Linked DNA regions of Homo sapiens: all the other regions are reported to be linked to region 4. The links are microRNA targets in miRTarBase. Many come from high-throughput screens and were not tested one by one. Region 4 holds a microRNA gene; each other region holds the end of a gene's coding sequence.

The links. The annotated mature microRNA hsa-miR-513a-3p reads UAAAUUUCACCUUUCUGAGAAGG and lies in region 4 at 1,685-1,707, shown strand. An mRNA with a match to its seed (bases 2 to 7 or 8) in the 3' UTR can be bound and repressed. Matches are read on the target gene's strand: a 7mer-m8 pairs with bases 2 to 8, a 7mer-A1 pairs with bases 2 to 7 and ends in A, and an 8mer does both.
Region 1: miRTarBase lists MRPS18C as a target of hsa-miR-513a-3p. Seed matches in the 3' UTR shown: 7mer-A1 at 2,981-2,987 and 7mer-A1 at 2,954-2,960.
Region 2: the mRNA of C16orf87 is a reported target of hsa-miR-513a-3p. Seed matches in the 3' UTR shown: 7mer-A1 at 1,135-1,141, 7mer-A1 at 640-646, 7mer-A1 at 615-621 and 7mer-A1 at 364-370.
Region 3: miRTarBase lists CACNG6 as a target of hsa-miR-513a-3p. Seed matches in the 3' UTR shown: 8mer at 2,972-2,979.
Region 5: the mRNA of HOXC11 is a reported target of hsa-miR-513a-3p. Seed matches in the 3' UTR shown: 7mer-m8 at 737-743, 7mer-m8 at 856-862, 7mer-m8 at 1,200-1,206 and 7mer-A1 at 1,591-1,597.
Region 6: miRTarBase lists MCFD2 as a target of hsa-miR-513a-3p. Seed matches in the 3' UTR shown: 7mer-m8 at 1,949-1,955.

The regions. Positions count from the first base shown.
Region 1 is chr4:83,460,797-83,464,868 of GRCh38, reverse strand. It overlaps MRPS18C (mitochondrial ribosomal protein S18C), which reads right to left. Exons shown (of 6, transcript NM_016067.4): 5 at 3,837-3,896; 6 at 2,571-3,748. The coding sequence ends at 3,672. It overlaps ABRAXAS1 (abraxas 1, BRCA1 A complex subunit), which reads left to right. Exons shown (of 9, transcript NM_139076.3): 8 at 1,261-1,375; 9 at 1,967-4,072. The coding sequence ends at 2,400. Among named protein-coding and RNA genes, the nearest start is that of MRPS18C, 6.8 kb to the right of the region's middle.
Region 2 is chr16:46,799,619-46,803,707 of GRCh38, forward strand. C16orf87 (chromosome 16 open reading frame 87) reads right to left here. Exons shown (of 4, transcript NM_001001436.4): 4 at 1-3,452. The coding sequence ends at 3,334. Among named protein-coding and RNA genes, the nearest start is that of C16orf87, 30 kb to the right of the region's middle.
Region 3 is chr19:54,011,548-54,015,636 of GRCh38, reverse strand. CACNG6 (calcium voltage-gated channel auxiliary subunit gamma 6) reads right to left here. Exons shown (of 4, transcript NM_145814.2): 4 at 2,971-3,686. The coding sequence ends at 3,448. Among named protein-coding and RNA genes, the nearest start is that of CACNG6, 22 kb to the right of the region's middle.
Region 4 is chrX:147,211,116-147,215,204 of GRCh38, reverse strand. It overlaps MIR513A1 (microRNA 513a-1), which reads left to right and starts at 1,614; the gene lies at 1,614-1,742. The region is part of intron 1 of LOC105373347 (periphilin-1); the gene reads right to left.
Region 5 is chr12:53,975,176-53,979,253 of GRCh38, forward strand. HOXC11 (homeobox C11) reads left to right here. Exons shown (of 2, transcript NM_014212.4): 2 at 6-2,468. The coding sequence ends at 238. Among named protein-coding and RNA genes, the nearest start is that of HOTAIR, 2.3 kb to the left of the region's middle. RefSeq lists enhancers at 102-251, 3,741-4,078.
Region 6 is chr2:46,901,771-46,905,845 of GRCh38, forward strand. MCFD2 (multiple coagulation factor deficiency 2, ER cargo receptor complex subunit) reads right to left here. Exons shown (of 4, transcript NM_139279.6): 4 at 104-3,824. The coding sequence ends at 3,693. The region is part of intron 1 of MCFD2-AS1 (MCFD2 antisense RNA 1); the gene reads left to right. Among named protein-coding and RNA genes, the nearest start is that of MCFD2-AS1, 4.5 kb to the left of the region's middle.

The DNA of each region.
Region 1 (4,072 bases), not on the chromosome of region 4:
GAATGCCATAGAACTTTCTGTGTCTGCACATTGCTATCCTTCCAGACCTTTTTGTTTCTTCATCCACTGGCAGGCCAGAAAACAGCCAACCCACAGCTCCTGCATTTAGATCTCTTCTAGAGCATAAGATCTGCCAATTGGCTATGTAATACCTCCAGATTGCCAGGCAAGAATCTCATTGGTTCTGTTTGGGTCAGCTCTGGTGAAAGGTGGGTACAGGGGTAACTGGCAAACTCTTATGTCAGGGCAAAAAAAGTTTGTAAAAAGTAGGCTTGGCAGACATCCTAAAAAGTGTCCACTAAAACTGGCAAAACAACTATTACCCTACAGTTGGAAATTAGTTGCTTTTTTTACTAATTAGTTGTTCTCCCCTCCCCCAGTTGTTTTATGTTATACTAAGAAACATCATCTTATATTTTTGTTGTTATTCAGATATATTCCCAAATGGAATTATGGCATCAAAAGTTACTGGTATTCATACTTTTAAAACTAAAGACACACAGAAGTGATCTGCTTTTCAAAAGTAGTTTCTCTTACAGGAAAAAATCTTCAATAGTATCCTTTCGTAATAGTAAGATAGTCACTTTGTTTCACTTACTGTGAGTTTCTTAGTGTTAAATTTATGCAGTAACTCTGCATCTGTATTTTTTTTGTTTCAAAGTTTTTTTGTTTGTTTTTGTTTGAGACAGGGTCTCACTCTGTCGCCCAGGCTGGAGTGCAGTGGTGCAATTTTGGCTCACTGCAACCTCTGCTTCCTGGGTTCAAGCGATTCACCTGCCTCAGTCTCCTGAGTAGCTGGGACTACAGGCATGCATCACCACACCTGGATAATTTTTTATATTTTTAGTAGAGACAGGGTTTCACCATGTTGCCCAGGCTGGTCTCGAACTCCTGAGCTCAGGTAGTCTACCCACCTCAGCCTCCCAAAGTGCTGGGATTACAGGCGTGAGCCACCGCAGCTGGCCCATGAGTTAATATTTCAGTTTATTTCTGTATATTTTCAGCGAACTAACTGGCATGATAAAAGCTGTATAAATGAGAAGTTACATGTGAAAAAGCATTTTACAACCTATAAGGCTTATTTATAACCTACAAGTGCTTGTTACTGACATCCTCCAGAAAATAAATAAAATTTATATAAAAGGCAAATAGTTTTGGGTATTATATACCACCAATGATTTTATATTATTTGTGAATCTAGACTGTATTAGTACACAGCTTGAAATATTACCTATGCCCTTAAATTACTTTATTTTGCAGAGTATATGCAAAAAAGTGGAAGACAGTGAACAAGCAGTAGATAAACTAGTAAAGGATGTAAACAGATTAAAACGAGAAATTGAGAAAAGGAGAGGAGCACAGATTCAGGCAGCAAGTAAGTAAACAACACATCTCTACTTTCTGTGCTAAAAATTTTTATTTATTTATTTATTTTTGAGACGGAGTCTCGCTCTGTCGCCTAGGTTGGAGTGCAAAGGTGTGATCTCAGCTTACTGCAACCTCTGCCTCCTGGGGTCAAGCGATTCTCCTGCCTCAGCCTCCTGAAACGCTGGGATTCCAGGTGCCTGCCACCATGCCTGGCTAATTTTTTTTGTATTTTTAATAGAGACAGGGTTTCACCATGTTGGCCAGGCTGGTCTTGAACTTCTGACCTCAAGTGATCCACCCGCCTCAGCCTCCCAAAGTGCTGGGATTATAGGTGTGAGCCACTGCGCTCGGCCCTTTCTGTGCTTTTAAAGAACATAATACTATGGTAGCTATATTGCTGACATGAAAGAACACAACTTTAATTTTGTCTTAGAATACTGTGGCATATAAATTAGAATTCAGAATTATGTATGTTATCCTCACTTTAGATAATACAACTGTTAAAATCTTTTTGACTTAATTTTACTTACAAATAGTTAATTATAAAAGCTTTGTAGAAGAAATGTTATATGTTGAACTGTTATTCTATTTTGTTTAGGAGAGAAGAACATCCAAAAAGACCCTCAGGAGAACATTTTTCTTTGTCAGGCATTACGGACCTTTTTTCCAAATTCTGAATTTCTTCATTCATGTGTTATGTCTTTAAAAAATAGACATGTTTCTAAAAGTAGCTGTAACTACAACCACCATCTCGATGTAGTAGACAATCTGACCTTAATGGTAGAACACACTGACATTCCTGAAGCTAGTCCAGCTAGTACACCACAAATCATTAAGCATAAAGCCTTAGACTTAGATGACAGATGGCAATTCAAGAGATCTCGGTTGTTAGATACACAAGACAAACGATCTAAAGCAGATACTGGTAGTAGTAACCAAGATAAAGCATCCAAAATGAGCAGCCCAGAAACAGATGAAGAAATTGAAAAGATGAAGGGTTTTGGTGAATATTCACGGTCTCCTACATTTTGATCCTTTTAACCTTACAAGGAGATTTTTTTATTTGGCTGATGGGTAAAGCCAAACATTTCTATTGTTTTTACTATGTTGAGCTACTTGCAGTAAGTTCATTTGTTTTTACTATGTTCACCTGTTTGCAGTAATACACAGATAACTCTTAGTGCATTTACTTCACAAAGTACTTTTTCAAACATCAGATGCTTTTATTTCCAAACCTTTTTTTCACCTTTCACTAAGTTGTTGAGGGGAAGGCTTACACAGACACATTCTTTAGAATTGGAAAAGTGAGACCAGGCACAGTGGCTCACACCTGTAATCCCAGCACTTAGGGAAGACAAGTCAGGAGGATTGATTGAAGTTAGGAGTTAGAGACCAGCCTGGGCAACGTATTGAGACCATGTCTATTAAAAAATAAAATGGAAAAGCAAGAATAGCCTTATTTTCAAAATATGGAAAGAAATTTATATGAAAATTTATCTGAGTCATTAAAATTCTCCTTAAGTGATACTTTTTTAGAAGTACATTATGGCTAGAGTTGCCAGATAAAATGCTGGATATCATGCAATAAATTTGCAAAACATCATCTAAAATTTAAATTTGTCCTACATTTGTACTTGCTAAATCTGGCAGCCTTAATTATTACACAACTATAACACAACACAAACAGTAATCTCTCCCCTAGTTTAGAGTCCTTTGCATGAAATTTAGCAAATCTATCATTTTGAATACAGTACAAGCCTGGTAATCCAGTGTATTTGGGATAGGCCAGTGGAACTCAGAACTGATACATATATACATGTATGTCTATCATATTCAATGTCTATTAGGTGTAAATCATCTCTTCATGTAAAAGACACTACTGGTTTGAGGGTAGACTCGTCTAGGAATATTTTGTCCTTCTGTGACAGCACCACTATCCATCCCAATGTAACATTTCTACAAAGGGAAGATATCTTAACCAGGCATACTTATATTTGCTAGTTGGAAAATCATTCTGAACAGTTTTAATTCCATTCTATTGAATGGATTATTGTATGAGCTATTTGGGGATCAGATATAAATGACAATCACACAGAACCACTTTTATTCAACATAGATAAAATGTGATGAGTGTTAACATTTTAAATAAGCAATCTGCTTAATGGACATTGGTATGAAGGGGAAGTGTCATTCTTTACCTCACTCCTCAAACACTTTTCTATCCAAAGGTTGGTTTGAGTCAGTATTGGCATCATACAACCACTTACTGTAAAATAAGTTTATTAGTGGTAACGTGATAGAATTTATTCCCGATATCTGATGTTACAAACTTTAGGGTCCTTGAGATATGCAGGATCCTTGTATGTAACTGGCATAAACCCTGTAAAGAGATAATTAAAGTTCTTGACAAAACATAATGAGCAAAATTTCAGCTAGCTCAATTCAGTTGTTGAGGTATTCTTTCTTACCCATTATTTGAGCTCTCTTAATTGCTTTTGTGATTTCTTTCTGTTTCTTCCCACAAAGACCTGTAAAATAAAAAGCTTTCTTATTCATAAAAAATGTCAATATTTAAAGTTTGCAATTTTTTTTTTTGAGATGGAGTCTCCCTGTGTCACCCAGGCTGGAGTACAGTGGTGCTCTCTCGCCTCACTGCAACCTCCGCCACCCAGGCTCAATCGATTATCTTGCCTCAGCCTCCTTA
Region 2 (4,089 bases), not on the chromosome of region 4:
GTATCTAGAGCATATTTTGAAAGTGGAATCAAACAAATTCAATACTTTTTTCACACAGGGTGTTTCTTGCTCTGCCTCCCAGGCTGGAGTGCAGTGGCAAGATCATCACTCACTGCAGCCTCGAACTCCTGGGCTCAAGTGATCCTTTAGCCTCAGCTGCCTAGTAGCTGGAAGCACCACACCCAGCTAATTTTACTTTTTGTAGAGACGCGGTCTCATCATGTTGCCCAGGCTGGTCTCAAACTCCTGGCTTCAAACAACTCTCCTGCCTTGGCCTCCCAAAGTGTTGGGATTACAGGTGTAAGCCACCATGCCTGGCCAATTAATACTTTATATAAAAGTAAGTAAAGAGCTTAATTTTTCTAAATTTAAGACAAACATGCAGATTGAAAGGCAAGCCAAAATTAAATATTGCCAAGTCATTTTAATGATCAGAATTAGAGAATCAAGTGCAATTACTAGAGTTAAAGAAGTCAAATACTTTTCAATTTGAAATCTTATCTGAGGGAGAACACTATCTGATTACTTTTAGGAAGCAACTCAGAGGTCATACTGACCTTTTTTTTTTTTTTCTTAAGTATTTCTGAAATTTAAAGAAATAAGAATAGACTGGCTAAATTTTCAGGTCATTTGCAATTTTAAATTTTCTCATCATAAACTGCTTCAAGCTGTTTGATCACTTCCACTGATTACTACACAAGAAATAATTTGCACAATTTCCCTTACTTTTATATCATTTACATTTAAATACAGCCAAAAAATACCCATGAAAATCTAAGAAATGTTCATTTCTAAAACTAACAAACAAAATCAAACTACAAGTATTAAAGTGCCCACAAAAACATTTTGGAATACCATGGAGTTGAGGCAGGGAGTAACAACTCTCAAACTACTTTTATTTAATCTTACTCATATTTAAGAATAAGTTATCTTCAACAGACCTAATCTAATTGTGGAATCATTTCAAGGTATTTTGAATAATCATATCATTTATAGATATCAGAGCAGAACAAATTTTGGATTAAGTAAAGAACTATAATTATACTCTTAGGACATCTGCTGATGACAGAGGTTTCTCTGACACCAGTGACAAAGTAATATTTTCTGGGACCATTACAACATGCCTAGACAAATTAAATTTTTTAGCTTTATAACAAGAAAGCTCATAGAGTACAATTTTTTGAAAAATTGGTTAAATAGGTTATGTCACAGAGGAAACCTAATTTGCCTCTCTGCCACGGAAATTTTTAAATAAGCCAATAATTTAACATTATGAGATCTGAAGTAATTACTTTTCTATACGGCAAGCTCCAGCCCAGCCACCAGTACCTCCTTTACCATATCCAATGAATATTTTAACATGACTTTCCTGTAATGGTCTTCAGCTTTAAATGGATAGACTCTGACATCGATAATTCCTTAAAGACGTGCTTATTCCACAAGCTGTTCTTGCTTTTTCTGAGGACATATATATGTATACAAGCATTTTTAGATATTAATCATTTTTAAGCTTTTTTACTTAAAATCAAAAGTTTCCTTACAGTATGTTTCAAAGATAAAATCACATTACATTATTGGGGAAACTACTAGTTAAGACTCTAAAACGCACACAAGGCTGAGTGCAGTGGCTCATGCCTGTAATCCCAGCACTTTGGGAGGCCAAGGCGGGCAGATCACCTAAGGCCAGGAATTTGAGACCAGCCTGGCCAACATGCTGAGACCCCATCTGTACTAAAAAATACAAAAAAAAAAACAGCCAGGCGTGGTGGCGCACGCCTCTAGTCACAGCTACTCAGGAGGCTGAGGCATAAGAATCACTTGAACCCAGGAGGCAGAGGTTGCAGTGAGCTGAGACAGTGCCACTGCACTCCAGCCTGGGCGACCGAGCAAGACTCTGTCTCCTAAATAAATAAATAAAATGCATACAAAATAGTTGCAGTAGTACCTGCAGATAGATACAGGGATTAAAGGAAAAGGAATCCTTAGGAAAATTCTTTATCCTATCTAGAGTACCTCTTAAGCTCCCTCTGCTGGTTACCATTTAAATAAAGTAGGAAAAAATGTTGACCTTTTTTCTTTGAGGAGGTGATGGGAGATGCAGGATGAAGTCTGAAATTGATAATGTTACGGCTAAAATTGAAAGGGAGATTCTCTTAAAAGGGGGCTAAATCTAACTGATGACTATCTTCTGTAAGAAGGCTTTAAAAGGATTTCTAAACAGATTGGGGGAAGAGCGACTGAAAATAAGGGGAGTGATTACCAAGTTTGAATATGTTAATCATTAAATTGATATGCCAAAATGCAAAAGCATTTAATATAAATCAACTATAAACGATTATGACTTAACACTAGAAAAATTAAGAATTTAAATATATTTCACAAACTTCACCAGAACAAAAAACTTTTATCACACTATTTAATCTACTTAGTTTCAATATTAAGGTTTATTTTTTCTTCCAGATTGAAAGTAACAATTTAAATAATTATCAGGATATAGAAACAAATATCCATTCAGATAAAACATTACTGCTTAAAAGTGGCTAAGAAATATTTTGCATGTAATAAATATATTTCATGTTTAGGTTAACAGGCACCATCTTGAGAGCAGTTTGTTTTTTTTTTTTAGCTAATAAATAAATTACATTCAAGAAAACAAGGTGTTTATATCTGAGTATATCATTAAATGTTTTTCTTCATATAGCACCCAAACTTCAAACTGTCTAGAAAGTATCTCCTAAAATATAACTCATACCTTAAGTAATAAAAATAAAGGCCAAGAAAAAAAATCAATTTAAGACAAAATTTACAGTTTATATTCTTAATTCCCCATTCAATAAAATATCGATTGCCAATTTAATAAAAGTAAATGAACTGTATATATGCAATCTGTTAGCACTGAAAATCTGAAATATATATTTTTAAAAATCACTCTTTCTGACAGTATTTAAAATATTGCATCTCTGGTGGCAAACCTGAAAACAATCAAGCATCTTATTACCCTAGTTTTCATACCTACCCCATACCCCATCACTTTTTATCCTTTAACATCCATCCAGCATTTTTGTTGGTTTTTTTTTGTTGTTGGCAAATACACTTACTTATATCCCAAACACAAAACACTGACAATACTCCTTGGTAAACAAGGAAATCCCAGAACAGTCCAAGCCTACACAGCTTTGCTCCCGAAGTGTGGCACAGGCTAAACGACAGGCGAGAAAGAAACAATCGATGGCCCTTATTGATGCAGTCAGAATGCTCCTGAGAGTCCATAACTGTTTGAGAATTTGCTGATGTTATCCTGACAGAAGTTTCAGCAGATTTTGCAAACAAGTATCAGAGAATAAGTCTTTGATTGATAATTTTTCTATTTATTTCTGCCAAGGCGACTGAAAACACGAAAGCCTTTTCATCAGACAGGTTAGCATAGATGTCAATTTCCTTTTCCTGTTTCTCTGTTAAAAGAAAAAGGGAAAGTTTAATATAAAGGCAGTAGATGCAGTAAATTTAAATTTTTTAAAGCTTTCAAGTATTTCTTTAAATGACAGTATTATATATAATACTACAATATACATTAAATGTTACTATGCTACTGAACTAAAAAGTTTTTTAAATTATACAAAGGAGTTACTGAAATGAAGATTAAATGAAGACAATATTTATTTCTATACACAGGCACTCTAACAGCTACATAATTTTTCTAAGAATCTCATACATTTCTATCTCCTCACTGTCTCAATCAAAATGAATTTTCTCTGCTAGACGAAATTCACTCTGAGAGATGGTCCCCTTCTGAACATCAATGGTGACTTTATGAATACATTAACATATTCATCTTCATCTTCTTATACAGGAAATGACATTTATTTTTATTTTTCCCCTCTCGATTACAAATGTAATCCAAGTTCACAGAAAATTTGAAAAAGAAAATAAAAATCACTCGTAATCTCATGAGTCAGCAAAAATCACAATTAACATCTTGGTGTATATTCTTCCAAGTTACTTTTTCAGGATCCCCTGATTCTATTTTTGTTTATTTTGTTTTGACAGTCTAATCAAAGTTAAATGCATATAATTTACAATCAAATCATT
Region 3 (4,089 bases), not on the chromosome of region 4:
AAAAAATTAGCCAGGCTTGGTGGCGGGCGCCTGTAGTCCCAGCTACTCGGGAGGCTGAGGCAGGAGAATGGCGTGAACCTGGGAGGTGGAGCTTGCAGTGAGCCGAGATTGCACCACCGAGCTCCAGCCTGGGTGACAGAGCGAGACTTCGGCTCAAAAAAAAAAAAAGAAAAAGAAAGAAGGAAAGAAAGAAAGAGAGAGAGAGAGAGAAGAAAGAAAGAAAGAGGAAGAAAGAAAAGAAGGAAGGAAGGAAGGAAGGAAGGAAGGAAGGAAGGAAGGAAGGAAGGAAGGAAGGAAGGAAGGGCCATTCCCCCAAGACCAACTATCTCCGCCACCCCCATGGCAGATGTCTCTTGAGGCTTCCCTGACCTGGCTGGGCACAAAGTCAAACAACAAAAAAAAAATTGTGGACTCTCTTGTCTCCTAGCACTTAACTTGGTTTATAATTGCACGCTCATTACTTCAGTGATGTGATTAGTATCTGTTTCCATCAGCAGGCTGTCAGCTCGTCGTCGGGGGTCCCTGTTTACTCTGTAAGTGCCACTTGAGAAAAACTAACAGCAAAGGCAGATCGAGTTGCGACCACGTGCCAGGCGGTCTCCTGGGAGCTTTGCAGGGCTCATGATGGCGTTTACTCCCGACGGTGACTCCTGGGAGTAGGTACAGGATTGAGCTCACGCACCGTCTTTAGGGATGAAGGAACGAAGACAGAGAGAGGTGAAGCTGTTGCCCCAGCCATAGGTCGGGGAGCTGGGCTTTCACACCAGCCTGGCTCCCAGGTGCCCAGGCACTGCGGGGCACTTCTGCTTGTTGAATGGAAGAATGCAGAATTAGAAACAAAAATCGCATGGTCAGCTGGGCGCGGTGGCTCACGCCTGTAACCCCAGCACTTTGGGAGGCGGAGGTGGGACGATCACTTGAGGTCAGGCGTTCAAGACCAGCCAGGCCAACGTGGTGACACCCCATCTGTGCTAAAAATACAAAAATTAGCTGGGTCTGGTGGCGCACACCTGTAATCCCAGGTACTGGGGTGGCTGAGGCACAAGAATTGCTTGAACCCGGGAGGCGGAGGTTGCCGTGAGCCGAGATCGCACCACTGCCCTCCAGCCTGGGCGACAGAGTGAGACTGCAAAATAAAAATAAAAATAAAATCACATGATCATCTCAATAGATGCAGAAAAAGCATTTTGATATGGGAGGGGGGCAGAGAACTGCTGGGTAGAGAAGGGCAGGGTCTCTGGCAAGGGCTCTACCCTAGGGCCTGTGCCCATGGACCTAAATTAGAACAGGCATTTCCGAAGGTGCTGGGATTACAGATGTGAGCCACCACACCCAGCTAATTTTTGTATGTTTTGTTGTTGTTGATTTGTTTTGTTTGTTTGTTTGTTTTTAGTAGAGACAGGGTTTCACCATGTTGGCCAGGCAGATCTCGAACTCCTGACCTCAGGTGATCCACCCGCCTCGACCTCCCAAGGTGCTGGAGTTACAGGCATGAGCCGTCGCGTGGGGCCAAGACTCACCCTTTTCTTAACACCTGGCAACCACTAGTCTGTCTTCCGGGTCTGCAATTTAGTGACTTCAAGAATAAGAAACCTTGTTTCAACCCCTTGACCTGATGCCAGTGTGTCTCTGCTCAGCAAGCTCCCATGGCTCCTCAGTACCCTCAGGGTAAAGGCCAAGCTGTTCTGTTGAGCATCTGAGTCTCTCCACCTTGTTCATAAGACAGCCCACCCCAACCCTCTCACGTTTCCTGTGTCTCACTCTGAACACCAGCGTTCACATTTCCTCACTCACAGGTTCATCATGTTTTTCCTCTTGTTTCTGTCCAGGCTCTCCCACCCAGCTGGAACGCCCGTGACGTTCTCCACTTTCTCTGATTCTTACTCACCTTGAAGACTCAAGTTCGTCATCTTCTTCGGAAGGCTTTCCTGAACCAATCCCCCTTCCCCCCACCTTTTTGATTTTTTTTTTTTTTTTTTTTTTTTTTGAGACGGAGTCTTGCTCTGTCACCCAGGCTGGAGTGCAGTGGCGAGATCCCGGCTCACTGCAACCTCCAACTCCCAGGTTCAAGCAATTCTCCTGACTCAGCCTCCCGAGTAGCTGGGATTACAGGTGCCTGCCACCACACCCAGCTAATTTTTGTATTTTTAGTAGAGACGGGGGTTCACCGTGTTGGCCAGGCTGGTCTTGAACTCCTGACCTCAGGTGATCCACCCGCCTTGGCATCCCAAAGTGCTGGGATTACAGGCGTGAGCCGCCACACCCGACCAGAAAACACAATTTAGAATATATACACTGTTAATGGTTGAATGTTCTCCCCTACAAAATGTATATATATATATATATGTTGGACCCTAACCCCCAGTACCTAAGAATGTGACCTCATTTGGAGATACGGTCTTTACAGAGATAATCAAGTTAAAATAAGGTCATTGGGGGTAAATCCTAATCACGTATGACAGGAGTCATGTGTAAAGGGGAAATCTGGGTGGGGTACGGTGGCTCACGCCTGTAATCCCAGCACTTTGGGAGGCTGAGACAGGTGGATCACTTGAGATCAGGAGTTCGAGACCAGCCTGGTTAACATGGTAAAACCCCGTCTCTTCTAAAAAAAAAAAAAAAATACAAAAATTAGCTGGGCATGGTGGCTCGTGCCTGTAAACGCAGCTACTTGCGAGGCTGAGGCAGGAGAATCACTTGAGCCCAGGAGGCGGAGGTTGCGGTGAGCCAAGATTGCAGCACTACACTCCAGCCTGGGAGACAGAGCAAGACTCCGTCTCAAAATAAAAATAAAAATAAAAAATATATTGTGTTTTCCACACTCTCAACCATTGTGTATGGGTTCGTTTTCATGTGACTTCTGGGCTTAAAAGTGTTTCTGGAGGGTATGTTTCTGGAGGGAATATGGGGTCACTTTTCTTTACCCCAGAATGCACGATCACATCACAAATAGACTCCAAAGCAAAGTTGTTAAATTTCCAAACCTTTAATCCCAAATCAGATCACAGCGAGGCCAGACCCTTCGCTATCTCCCCCAACCGCACCCGGAGCTGCAGATGAGTTGTAAAAAGTCTCTCCCGGCAAGTGAATCGATCCAGACCTGGGAAATGAAGGGGCCCCCAACTCCCACCCAAGACCCCCTGACCTCATCCCCCAACCCCACACCCCAGCTACCCCATCAGGTCCCCGCCAGTCTTCTCTGGGGACCCTCGTTTGCAAAGAGCCTCTTCCCATCCCACCCCCAAGCAACCCACATACAGCCACAGAGAAAAACGTATTTACAGAGGGAGAAAGGATAAGGGGACAGGAGGCAGGCGTGTAAAAAAACATGGGCCCCCGAGCAGGGAGAACACAGTTTCTCTAGGAGATGGGGCAAAAAGATCTTGGGGGTACAATGGAGAAGGTCAAAGGGCTCGGTGGTTGCTTAGAGAAGTCTCACGCGTGGCTCTAGGTGGCCCGGTGCCCCCGCTTGGGACAGAGGGACCCCCAGGGCCAGGAAGGCAGTGTGAGCAGCAGAAAGCAGCCGGCCCCCAACAGCAGGATCAGGCCGGCCCCCACGCCGCAGCCCAGGGACCAGGAGTACTCGTAGGTGAGGCGTGGGGCCGGGGGAGGCTCCGGGCTGACTCTCTGCAGCAGGGCCCTCACGGAATGCCGGAACACCTCCAGGCTCACCAAGAGCAGCAGGCCTGCGGGAGAGAGGACAGCTCGCAGTCAGACGCCCGCGACCCCAGCTGTGTCTGAACATCTCCGCCATCCGCTCCCAGCCCTCCCGCCCACCCTGGCACCTTCCCACGCGTGCACTCAACAAATACTTACTAAACACCTACTATATAGCAGGCAGCATTTGGGAAGCTGGAGATAAAGAAAAAAAAAAACAAGACACAAAGTCATAGAGACAGAAAGTAGAAGGATGGTTGCCGAGGGCCGGAGGGAAGAGGAAAAAGGGGAGTTGGTGTTTAACAGGTATAGAATTTCAGCTGGGGAAGACGCAAATCGTTCTGAAGGTGGATGGGGGTGATAGTTGCATAACAATGTGAACGGAATTGATGCCACAGAACCGTACGCTGGAAAATGATTAAAAGGCGGATA
Region 4 (4,089 bases):
TAAATGCTTCAATTAAGAGAGACACTGTCAAATTATGTAAAAATAAGAAACAGCTGTACACTTTCTAAAACGAAACCATTTTAAATATGAAGACCTACGTGAAAGTTGGGTAAAAGGATGGAAAATATATTAATGCAAACAGTAAATATTAAAGCTAAAAAATCCTAGCACTATTAATTGTTAATCACACAGCGAGAGAGAGAGACTGAGCCCAAATAAATGTACTATAAAGAACCATGGAACTAAGAAAAATTAAATAGCATTTCTTGTCTTCCAGCCCATTATCTGTCTTGTCTGTCTCTCGTATTAATTTCTATGGGTTCTTCCCACTGCATAGCCTGAAGAAGAAATTAAATTTCTGCTCTCTCCAACCTGGTACTGTCTGACTCTTCTCTAGTAGTTTGGATCCAGGTGGTTGTATTCTGTGGTTTTTCCATTGGAATTAGGGTCTGTGCAGCACAGCTGGAGTTTTAGGACCATAGAGAGCTTTGGTGAGTGGTTGGCCCTGCCTACTTAACTGTAATTTTAAAAGTTTTTGGGGTTTTTTTGTTTGTTTGTTGTTTTTTTTTTGAGACAGGGTCTCACTCTGTAACCCGGGCTGGAGTATATTGGCACTATCTCCGCTCACTGCAACCTCTGCCTCCCAGGTTCAAGTGATCCTCCTGAGTAGCTGTGATTACAGGCGCGAGCCACCACACCCCGCTAAGTTTGTATTATTAGTAGAGATGGTGTTTGACCATGTTGGCCAGGGTGGTCTCAAACTCCTGGCCTTAAGTGATATGCACACCTGGACCACCCAAAGTACTGGGATTACAGGCATGAGCCACCATGCCCGGCCGACTCTGAAGATTTTTTTTTTTTTTTTTTAGATGGATTTTCACTTTTGTTGCCCAGGCTGGAGCACAACGGCACAACCTCGGCTCACTGCAACCTCTGTCTCCTGGGTTCAAATGATTCTCCTGCCTCAGCATCCAGATTAGCTGGGGTTACAGTCACCCACCACCACACCCGGCTGATTTTTTGTATTTGTAGTTGAGATGGAGTTTCACCACGTTGTCCAGGCTGGTCTCAAACTCCTGACCTCAGATGATCTACCAGCCTTGGCCTACCAAAGTGCTGGGATAACAGGCATGAGCCACTGTGCCTGGCCTGATTTTGAGGATTTTTAATGAGACAAGCAAATTAACGTGAAAACTAATGGGATAATTCAGACAAGGATTACTCGCCTTTGGGGAAGAGATGAAGTGAAAAGCTCTATTCTTGATCAGTCTAAAAATCTGCGTGTTAATTAGCCATTCGAGGTGGTGTGTGCCTTTAACCTAAGCTACTCGGGAGGCTGAGGCAGGAGAAGTGCTTGAACCCAGGAAGCGGAGGTTGCAGTGAGCTGAGATCACGCCAATGCATGCCAGACTGGGTGACAGAGCCAGACTTCATCTGAAAACAAAAACAAAACAAAAATCTGCATGTCAAAATCTCACTCGGGGCAGGATGAAAAGGGGAGTGCTGGGGGTTACAAGTTGCATTGTCCCTTGGCATAAATCTTGGTGGCCATGCGAAGGCATACACCTATAGGGACTTGAATAAAAACAGCATGAAAAGGGAGCATTTGGTCTGGGATGCCACATTCAGCCATTCAGCGTACAGTGCCTTTCACAGGGAGGTGTCATTTATGTGAACTAAAATATAAATTTCACCTTTCTGAGAAGGGTAATGTACAGCATGCACTGCATATGTGGTGTCCCTGAGGATGGGGGTGTAGCTGCGAGCATGGTGATGCCTGTTTTGCATCCTGTGCACCCACTCCTCAGTGCTGGGCTACACTTCAAGGAACTTTTTGTGCCTTCTAGACGACTGTACATAGGAATTGTGGACTCCTGAGAAAACGCATGCACTTAGGTTCCTTAAGAATTTATTTTTGCCAAATGAGGCTTGGCTCAAATAGGAAATACATTGGATAGAGGCCACAGCCATTCTTCGTCAGCTGGAATGCTTTACTCCAGATTCCTAAATTCTCTAAACTTTTTTCACTTATCAACTAGTCATCATTTGCAAGGATTCTCCTTTAGCGCTCCCAAAAGACTCTCCTGCCTCTCAGGTCCCTTCATTGCTGATCCACAGCGTCCATTTTCTGTCAAAGACTAAAACATTTTCTCATTGACTTTTAAAATACCTTTCAAAGCCTTAAGTCACCAATTTATGAAGGATTAAGCATAGTCCACCCAAGAATATTTCACTCTTTTTCATTATCTTTTTTCCCCGTTTTTTAAGAATATGTATGAACAATGGAAGGGTATGATGGAATTGATACTCAAGAGATATCTCCTAGTCTTCTCTCCCCATTTTCTTTGTGTGTGTGTGTGTGTGACAGAGTCTTGCTCTTTCGCCCAGGCTGGAGTGCAGCGGTGTGATCTGGGCTCACTGCAACCTCTATCTATCTCCCAGGTTCAAGGGATTCTCCTTCCTCAGCCTCCCGAGTAGTTGGGATTACAGGTGTGCCCCAACACACCTGGCTACTTTTTGTATTTTTAGTAGAGATGGGGTTTCACCATGTTGATGAGGCTGGTCTCGAACTGCTGACCTCCTGATCCACCCACCTAAGCCTCCCAAATGGCTGAGATCACAGGCGTGAGCCACCACGCCTGGTCCCATTTTCTTGTGTTGACACTTCTTAACTCTTAACCTAATGGAGAGAGATAGAGGGAAATACACACACACACAAACACACAAAAAAAGAGAGAGAGGGCAAAAGAGTAAGACAAGTGCCGGATGGTGTGAGGCCATCTGCAGCATGAAACTAGTATGCATTTTTGAGAAGTAGGTTATAAATAAGCTACTTATATTGCAGAAATGTGTTAAAAATGTTATAAATAGTAAGTTATTAATACAAATTTGATTCCAATGGAAATAGAGGTTATAGCATATACATCAAAAGGGAGAAAGTATAAAAAACAATTACTATATGGTTACAGGCAGGATTTTAGTTTGTTTTGTTACGTTCAGAATGGATGAATATGTTTAAGACCATTAATGTCTGGAAGTAAAAAAACAATCAGTTGAAGTATCTTTTTCAATATTAAAACAATTGCTCTAATAGATTACATAGCATCTTTTTCATTGGGGGCGGGGGAACATTCTGAACAGTAAAAAAATTCTGTCAGTTGGAAATGCTGTATGTACATAGAAATTTCCAAAGTGATAACACTTTTTAGTATATAATTTCTAAAACTGTATTATAGTGAATGCATGTGTACTTATATAATTTTAAGTCATATCCTAAAACGAAAGAAGAGAATTTAGTTAGTATCATATCTCTTTTATGATTTCTCAAAAGAGTACTCTATTCACTGTTATTTGTGGTTTTTCTTTCAGTGAAATACTTTTTTGTATCATTCATCCGTGTTTCTACCAATTTATTAAGGTTTAACTGACATAACTTTTGTATATATTTAAGGTGTACAACATGATGTTTGGATATATGTATATATTATACAATGATTAAATCCACCTAATTAAAACATAAAATAATATAAACATAACATATTTAGGTGAAACTCTAAATACAAATTATAGGATCTCTGTGGTATGCAGAATAACAGTCCCCCTCCAAAAGATGTTTACAGAGCAACCCCTGAACTCAAAAACATCACATTTTATGGTAGAAGGAAATTTGCAGATATGACTAAATATTTTGAGATTGGGATTATCCTAGATTATCTAGGTGAGTCCAACATAATCACAAGGGTTCTTATAAGTAGAAGGAAGGTGGTTAGAATAAGAGAAACATTGGAAAATGCTACAGTATTCAATAGAGGTGGAGGTAAAGTCCATGAGCCAAAGAATGATCTTCTAAAGACAATCAAGTAGATTCTCCTCTGGAGCCAACAGAAGGAACAAAGCCCTGCCAATGCCTTCATTTTAGCTGAGATAAACCTAATTTAGATTTCTGACCTTTAGACTCTAATATATTTGTGTTGTGTAAACAACTAAATTTGTGGCAGTTTGTTACAGTTATCAATTAAAAACCAAAAATATCTGTATGCTAAGAGTGCAAGTAAACACACTTAAAAAGTAAATAATTATTAAGTGGAG
Region 5 (4,078 bases), not on the chromosome of region 4:
TCCAGACGCCCCCCGCACCCGCAAGAAGCGCTGCCCTTATTCGAAATTCCAGATCCGGGAACTGGAGCGAGAGTTTTTCTTCAACGTGTATATCAACAAAGAGAAGCGGCTGCAGCTGTCCCGGATGCTGAACCTGACGGACCGACAAGTGAAAATTTGGTTTCAGAACAGAAGGATGAAAGAAAAGAAACTGAGCAGAGACCGGCTGCAGTATTTCTCGGGAAATCCTCTGCTGTAACCTGCAGACCGGGCCCTTTTGGGGGCGGGGGGAGGGGAAAATTATTTTATTTTATTTTTATTTTTTATTTTCTAACTCGTCTTCTTTCCGCCGGTGGAAAACTGGACTGTGGCCAGGGCTGGCCCCCACCGCTGTGGCCGGCACTCCATTCCGGAACCTCCTGGACCCTCTATCTGACTCTCGCTGTGGGACAGGGACCGGGCCTGGAAAGGGGGTGAAGGGAAGTGTCTGATGCACGGCGAGTGAACACCGTTGGCGCCGAGGCCAAGACTTTGATTTAAAAGAAAACACACCTCGGCGACAATGTCTTGCTGCTCGGATTAGGTGGGGGAGGGGCGACAGTAGTGAGCGCCTGAGCCGAACAATCCTCGAACTAAAAGCCTTCCCTTGCCCATGTGAAAAGATCCGCTAAGACAGCATGTCTGCCAGCGGAAACTTCTCGAGCTCCCCCCTCTACCCCGCCCCACCTTGCAGCTAAATGTGATCCTGCCTTGCTGTGAAATTTCTGTACCTTCAACCTGGTGTTAGGTGTGCAAAGTCCGTGTCCTACCTCCGTCTTCGCCAAGGCCCCGCCCGAGCCTAGTTGTTCTCCCCCTGAATGTGTAGAACCTTCCTTTGAAATTTCTTAATCGGTGCATTGAGGTTTCCACATCTTTTTCCAAGCAGTGCCCCACTTCATGGATTTATAGCTATAGTCTATGCAGTCGTTACCTCTTTTTTTTTTTTTTTTAAGAAAATTGAAGATTGGGGTGGTGGAGGCAGTAGGGAGATGGGATTGGGCACCTCCCCCGTGCTGGGGCCTGGATTTTTGTAAATAAATTTCCCAAGCGTTTCTTTCCACCTGGAGGGAAAGGGGGGGACGCCCCCAGTGAGATTCAAATCACGCATCTCTACTCCTCTGCGTGAGTGCGTGTGTACATGTGCACTCCCCACCCTGCTCCCTTCCCAGAGGGATTGCTGTGAAATTTTTTTGGTGGCAAATAAAGATAAATTTCATTCTGTTCAATATTATGATTTTATTTGACCCTTTTATTAACCCCTCTCCTCTTAAAATCCTCCATGCTCCCATGGCAGCGGCGGAGGAGGAGGAGGCAGGCAGGCAGAGCCCAGCGGGTGAGGACAGGCAGGCAGAGGTGAGATAGGCCGGTGCTAGCCGGCCTGGAGCTCCTCTCCGCTGGCAGGGCCAAGAGTATGGCCGTAGTCTCCTCACATTCTCAAGCTGAGGACATTCCATAGCTACTCTGAAGCTCTCCTTTCTCACGTGCAGCTCGAGCTGTGTCCAAACGCCCAGCAACGGCTTTCTGTTTAAGTACACGTTTGTTGTGGAGTTAATTGTAACCATCATCGAATTTAAATTTATAGGAATTTTTTTGGCTCCACCGCCCTTCTGCCAGATGTCTCCGTCTGTCGCAGTTAAATGTGTAGTGTGGAGGTTAGGGCTTTTTTTTTTTTTTCTCTAGGAGAAATCTGTATTGGAATTTTTATACACTGTTTTTAAGGAAGGAGGGGACAGAAGGAGAAACCAGCCCCCTCCCTCTCCTCTCCACAGCTCCTGGGGGTGGGAAGGTGGGGCCTGGCTGCTTTCCCTCTGGCACAAATGGCCAGGCTCTTCCAGACACAACAAGACGCCTATACTGGGGCCACCCTGATGTTTATACATTGGGTGTCCCACAGTAGAAAGCCCCAGAGGTTTGTTTTGTAGGGGTTGGCACTGGGGATGGAGATGACCTGCGGGGACAGTCACCATACCCATCTATATTTGCTGCATGTTTCTTCTGTATAAAGATAATCATGGCCCTTGCAGTGCTTTCAGTGAGGGCACTTCGTTGGTCTCTGTTTCAAATTCGTTATTTGGGGGCAGAGGTTCAGGACAACTCATCTCATCTTTCCCTCCTCTTTCTGTCTTTGTATAATTCAAAGAAAATATTTTTGTCAATACAATTCTGTTGGATGAAAGGAAAAAGCATCATGACTATCAAATCTAGGTTCTGTCATTTTTGATGGTAGGAATCCCTGCAGCTTAGGTATCTAAATTTCTAATTTGTAAACGTGGGTCGGGTCGTGAGACAAGATTTGCAAACTAGGGTGTATATGCAGCCCACAATTCCCTCATGTGCCCACACACAAACGTTTTATTTAACTCGGTGTGCCTATGGGTGCACATAAGAAGGAATATTATTTATATGCTTTTGTCTGTTGCATGGAGTAAACCTGACCACATACACATCTAGAGCTTGTGTCTCTGTGGTGTGTAACCATTGGCAGTGTTTGTTGAGTGTGGGCAGGAATGCAACTGAGGGGCCTCTGTACATTTTTGTGTGTGTATGTGTGTGTGACACTTCTCTAGGTATGATGTTTATCCACTAGCCACATTAGGAAATATTAGCCTGCTGGTGATGTTTCCTGTGAAATTAGGATAGAGGAAACTCTATAAGGTGAACCTATTTATAAAGCAAAATATTAGCCTCCAAATGCCTGATTTTGGAGAAAAATATTTAAAACCCGCAGGTAACACTTTCTCTGCAATGTGGAGCCCAGAAATGTCCTCAGCTCCAAAAGAGAGTTCTGGTGGATGAGAGGAGAAGGTCATCATGAAAGAAAAACAAAGGCTTCTGTGACCCAAGCCAGGAATCTGCCAGTCCTTGGTGACCCTCTAAAAAGGAGGAAAAAGGGTTTTTTGGCCCCCAAACAAACCCACCTTCCGTCTCCCAAGGTGTCCAACCCCCCTTGCAGGTCAGGGGCACTCTGGGCTCAACCTCTTGGGGTAATCCCCTCTAGCCGCAGCACTGCCCGGGAACAAAAGATCCTCGTCTAGACGCTGCCATAAAGCACCCCCTCACGTTTCTAAACCCAGTTTCATTTCGACCTTAACGACCCAGTCTGGCCTGTATTAGAAACCACTTCCGCCCTAAATAGTAAACAAACCTGTAGTGGAGGGTCTTGGCTCTCCCAACACACTCAGACCCCCACCTCCTCAGCCCGTTGCCCCACATTTTTCCTCTTTTCTCCAGCCTTTCTCAGCTCCCAGCACCCCAGCCCCTTTCCTCCCCGCCGCGCCCACCCCACCCCCCCGCCCCAGTAAATAAACCTGAGGCCGAGTTCAAAGTTTCCCGGAGCTAAGGAGGAATGCTGGTTGTAAAAATCCAAGTTTATAGTGCACGTGGGAGTTTACAAGGGTATTAAGTGGTGTGGGCTGAGAGAGCACTCTGGGCCCCTCCCCCTTCCACCATGGGCTTTGGGGTGCAGGAGGAATCAAGGGCACTCGAAATGAGAAATGGGTTTAGGAGTAGCCTTGAGTTTGGGGTTTCTTTGTCACTTAGACTCTTAGGTGGCTGAGGAATGGCGATGCAAGGGCCCCTTGTAAGAAGACTCGAAACCCCTGCCAAGCACCTCTGAGAGAAAACTCCCTGGCTCTAGTTGTCCCAGATGGAAAGATTGGGGAGCCCTGTTCTGGGGGAGCAAAAGGTGCAAACCAGGTGTCTGAAAGGTGAACAGAGTTGGGAATACCTAGAGCCAGTTCTCAACCAGAAGGGGAGAAACTACCTTGGGCTAATTTCTCGAGTGGGCTGAGAGCAGAAAGGGCTCTTCTCTTAAGAGTAAAGAAGAACTTTGAACTTCAAGGGAGTCAAGGGCACCACCCCTTCGCTTTCCCCGCCTCTCTCAGGAATCCGTAGGGCAATTGTTTCTGGGCCAGTATTCCCTGAAGGGGGGAGCTACTGGGGTTTTCTGGTGCCCCAGGGTTGGATAATGCTGTTTGCTAACCCCTCCCTACTGAGAGCCCGCCAGAACCAGTGCACGCGACTGCACTCTTTATTATTCATATAAACCTTTGGAAAAGGC
Region 6 (4,075 bases), not on the chromosome of region 4:
GTCACAGGAACTATGATAAGAGCAGGCACATGTGAACATTTGTAGTAAACACACCCTGCATGTGGCAGGAGAAGCTGATGTGAACAAAATCAACTGCTCGAGGTTTTGCTTCATCAGTTTTATTGGTCATATATCCAGAATTCATCATATATAAATCTTTCAAAATAATGAGCTATTACAAGAATAGTTTACAAGTCAGCTCTGACTGCACAAATACTTGACACAGGAAACCATTTTTACAAATACATATGTTTTCTTATAATACTGTAATAAAGAAAATAAGTCTGTATACATCCTACGACAAATTTTGTAGTCTCTTTTTCCCATTCAATCATCGTTTCAGGTTTTCTATTACAGAACGTCCATCACATCCAATAAACCAAATTACAATCTGCTGCTTCTTCTCATTTTCAAATACTATAAAGATTCACACTGTTAAAGGGTTTTTTGGGTTCCTTTTCTAATCTTTCCTGATTTGAAAAGAATCCATGTATCTAGGCTAAAAGAGGTAACTTCAACAATATCCCTCTTGACTAGAACTTCTATCTGATTAATCATTGTTTGGTGAATTATCTTTTCACTTCCTACTTAGGCTAGGCCAGGTGGTAGTTTTACCCCTGCTGATAAAGTCCTGACATTCCTAATAGTTCCTAAACTGCAAATAAAAAACCCTAGAAACGAGTGAAATAGAAAAGAAAGCTAAACCACTATTGATTAGAGAACACACTCAAATTCAGGGTCTCTCCCAGGTTGAAGAAGACAGAAAAGCAATAAAGTATAAGGATGTGGCAGTAGTTGTATAAAATACTGAAAATCTGAAAGAGTCATCACTTAAGCCAGTAGTGTATCATTTCCAAAATGTCAGAGGATACAGAATCTTAGACTCTGTGGCTAGGCTGAACTCAGAATCTCAGACTCTGTGGCTAGGCTGACATTCTTATGCTGTGGCTTTGAAATAGCCTAATAAATATCCACTTGCCCAGAGCAAGTAATCATTTAGGCCAGGGGAACTTTACAGAATACTGACCATGTTTGCCTGAAGAGATAGGAACCACCAGGGCAAACATTTGGTATTCACTCCACTTCACTGTTACTGAAAAGCATCCACTTGGCAAAGCCTGTTGTTTTACTTTTCAGGTGATGTGAATTAAAATTAAGAAACTAGCAGTATTCTACTACAGTCAAGTTCCTGAGTACTCAGCTCCAATTATCTAATATTCTTGAAAGGATGCTGATATGGTTTGGTTGTGTCCCCCCACAAATCTCAACTTGAATTGTATCTCCCAGAATTCCCACGTGTTGTGGGACAGACCCAGGGGGAGGTAATTGAATCATGGGGGCCAGTCTTTCCCGTGCTATTCTCGTGACAGTGAATAAGTCTCATGAGATCTGATCAGTTTATCAGGGGTTTCTGCTTTTGCTTCTTCCTCATTTTTTCTTGCCACAATGTAAGAAGTGTCTTTTGCCTCCCACCATGATTCTGAGGCCTCCCCAGCCATGTGGAACTTTAAGTCCAATTAAACCACTTTTTCTTCCCAGTCTCGGGTATGTCTTTATCAGCAGCGTGAAAACGGACTAATACAGTAAATTGGTACCAGTAGATTGGGACCTGCTGAAGAAATACCCAAAATGTGGAAGTGACTTTGGAACTGGGTAACAGGCAGAGGCTGGAACAGTTTGGAGGGCTCAGAAGAAAACAGGAAAATGTGGGAAAGTTTGGAACTTCCTACAGACTTGTTGAATGGCTTTGCCCCAAATGCTGATAGCAATATGGACAACAAAGTCCAGGCTGAGGTGGCCTCAGATGAAGATGAGGAACTTGTTGGGAACTGGAGTAAAGGTGACTCTTGTTATGTTTTAGCAAAGAGACTGGCAGCATTTTGCCCCTTCCATAGGGATTTGTGGAACTTTGAACTTGAGAGAGATGATTTAGGTTAACTAGCGGAAGAAATTTCTAAGCAGCAAAGTGTTCAACAGGTGACTTGGGTGCTTTTAAAGGCATTCCCTTATAAATAAGGGAAGCAAAGCATAAAAGTTTGGAAATTTGCAGCCTGACTATGCAATAGAAAAGAAAAACCCATTTTCTGGGGAGAAATTCAAGCCAGCTGCAGAAATTTGCATAAGTAGCAAGGAGCCTAATGTTAATCCCCAACACCATGGGGAAAATGTCTCCAGGCCATGTCAGGGCAGCCCCTGACATGTGTGTGCAGCCTAGGGACTTGGTGTCTTGTGTCCCAGCCACTCCAGCCATGGCTGAAAGGGGCCAACATACAGCTCGGGCTGTGGCTTCAGAGTGGAAGCCCCAAGCCTTGGCAGCTTCTATGTGCTGTTAAGCCTGCAGGTGCACAGAAGTCAAGAATTGAGATTTGGAAACCTCCGCCTAGTTTTCAGAAGATGTATGGAAATGCCTCAATGCCCAGGCAAACGTTTGCTGCAGGGGAGAGGCCCTCTCAGCGGCAGGGGAGAGAACCTCTGCTAGGGCAGTGCAGAAGGGAAATGTGGTGTGGGAGCCCCCACACAGAGTCCCTACTGGGGCACTGCCTAGTGGAGCTGTGAGAAGAGGGCCACCGTCCTCCAGACCCCAGAATGGTAGATCCACCAACAGCTTGCACCGTGCACCTGGAAAAGCCGCAGGCACTGAACAACAGCCGTGAAAGCAGCCAGGAGGGAGGCTGTACCCTACAAAGCCACAGGGGCAGAGCTGCCCAAGACCATGGGAACCCACTTCTTGCATCAGTATGACCTGGATGTGAGACCTGGAGTCAAAGGAGATTATTCTGGAACTTTAAAATTTGACAGCCCTGCTGGATTTCGGACTTGCATGGGCCCTGTAACCCCTTTATTTTGGCCAATTTCTCCCATTTGGAACAGCCGTCTTTAATCAATACCTGTACCCCTGTTGGTATCTAGGAAGTAACTAGCTTGCTTTTGATTTTACAGGCTCATAGGTGGAAGGGACTTGCCTTGTCTCAGATGAGACTTTGGACTGTGGATTTTTGCGTTAATGCTGAAAAGAGTTAAGACTTTGGGGGACTGTTAGGAAGGCATGATTGGTTTTGAATAGTGAGGACATGAGATTTGGAGGGGCCAGGGGTAGAATGATATGGTTTGGCTATGTCCCCACCCAAATCTCAACTTGAAATTGTATCTACCAGAATTCCCACGTGTTGTGGGAGAGACCCAAGGGGAGGTAATTGAATCATGGGGGCCAGTCTTTCCCATGCTATTCTTGTGATAGTGAATAAGTTTCACAAGATCTGATGGCTTATCAGGGGTTTCCACTTTTGCTTCTTCCTCATTTTCTCTTGCTGCCATGTAAGAAGTGCCTTTCACCTCCCGCCATGATTCTGAGGCCTCCCCAGCCATGTGGAACTGTAAGTCCAAGTAAACCTCTTTTTCTTCCCAGTCTCGGGTACGTCTTTATCAGCAGCATTAATACAGACTAATACAGATGCTTGAAGCAAGCCCTTGTCCAATAAGGTATTTAATAGCACTTAGGGACTATTAGATGTCCCATTTCTCTTCTCTTTCATTTCTCTTATCTCTTCTCACCCCAGTGTAACGAATCGCTACAGGTTTTTACCAAAATGCTGCAGCAGTAGTTGGAAATGAGTTATTTTGCATTACTAAAGTGTTCAATCACATTATCACGGGTCACATTTGTATATAACCAGGAGATGGCCAAATAACATCTACTGCAGTGATTTTGCAAATTCAGCATAGTCAATGTATCCATCATTGTTCTTGTCATCATCTCTCAAAACACCATCTATTATGTTAATCAGTTCATCTTCACTCATTAGTGGTGCCTGTTCACTCCCTTCCTACAAAATACAAATTAGACAATGATGAGTTGCGCATTTTACCGGAAGAAGTGCTTAACTAACGTCCAAAATATCCATGTTCTTTCATGGCACTGTTTATTAAAAAAAAAAAAAAAAAAAAGGAAAAACAAAACAACAAAATATCCACGCTCATATGTGTCCAAAAACTTTCAATGGAGTATGGGGCTACTTCTAGGAATCTAGATATATAGAGAGAGAATATGTATTATTGAGTCAATTTATCATAATCC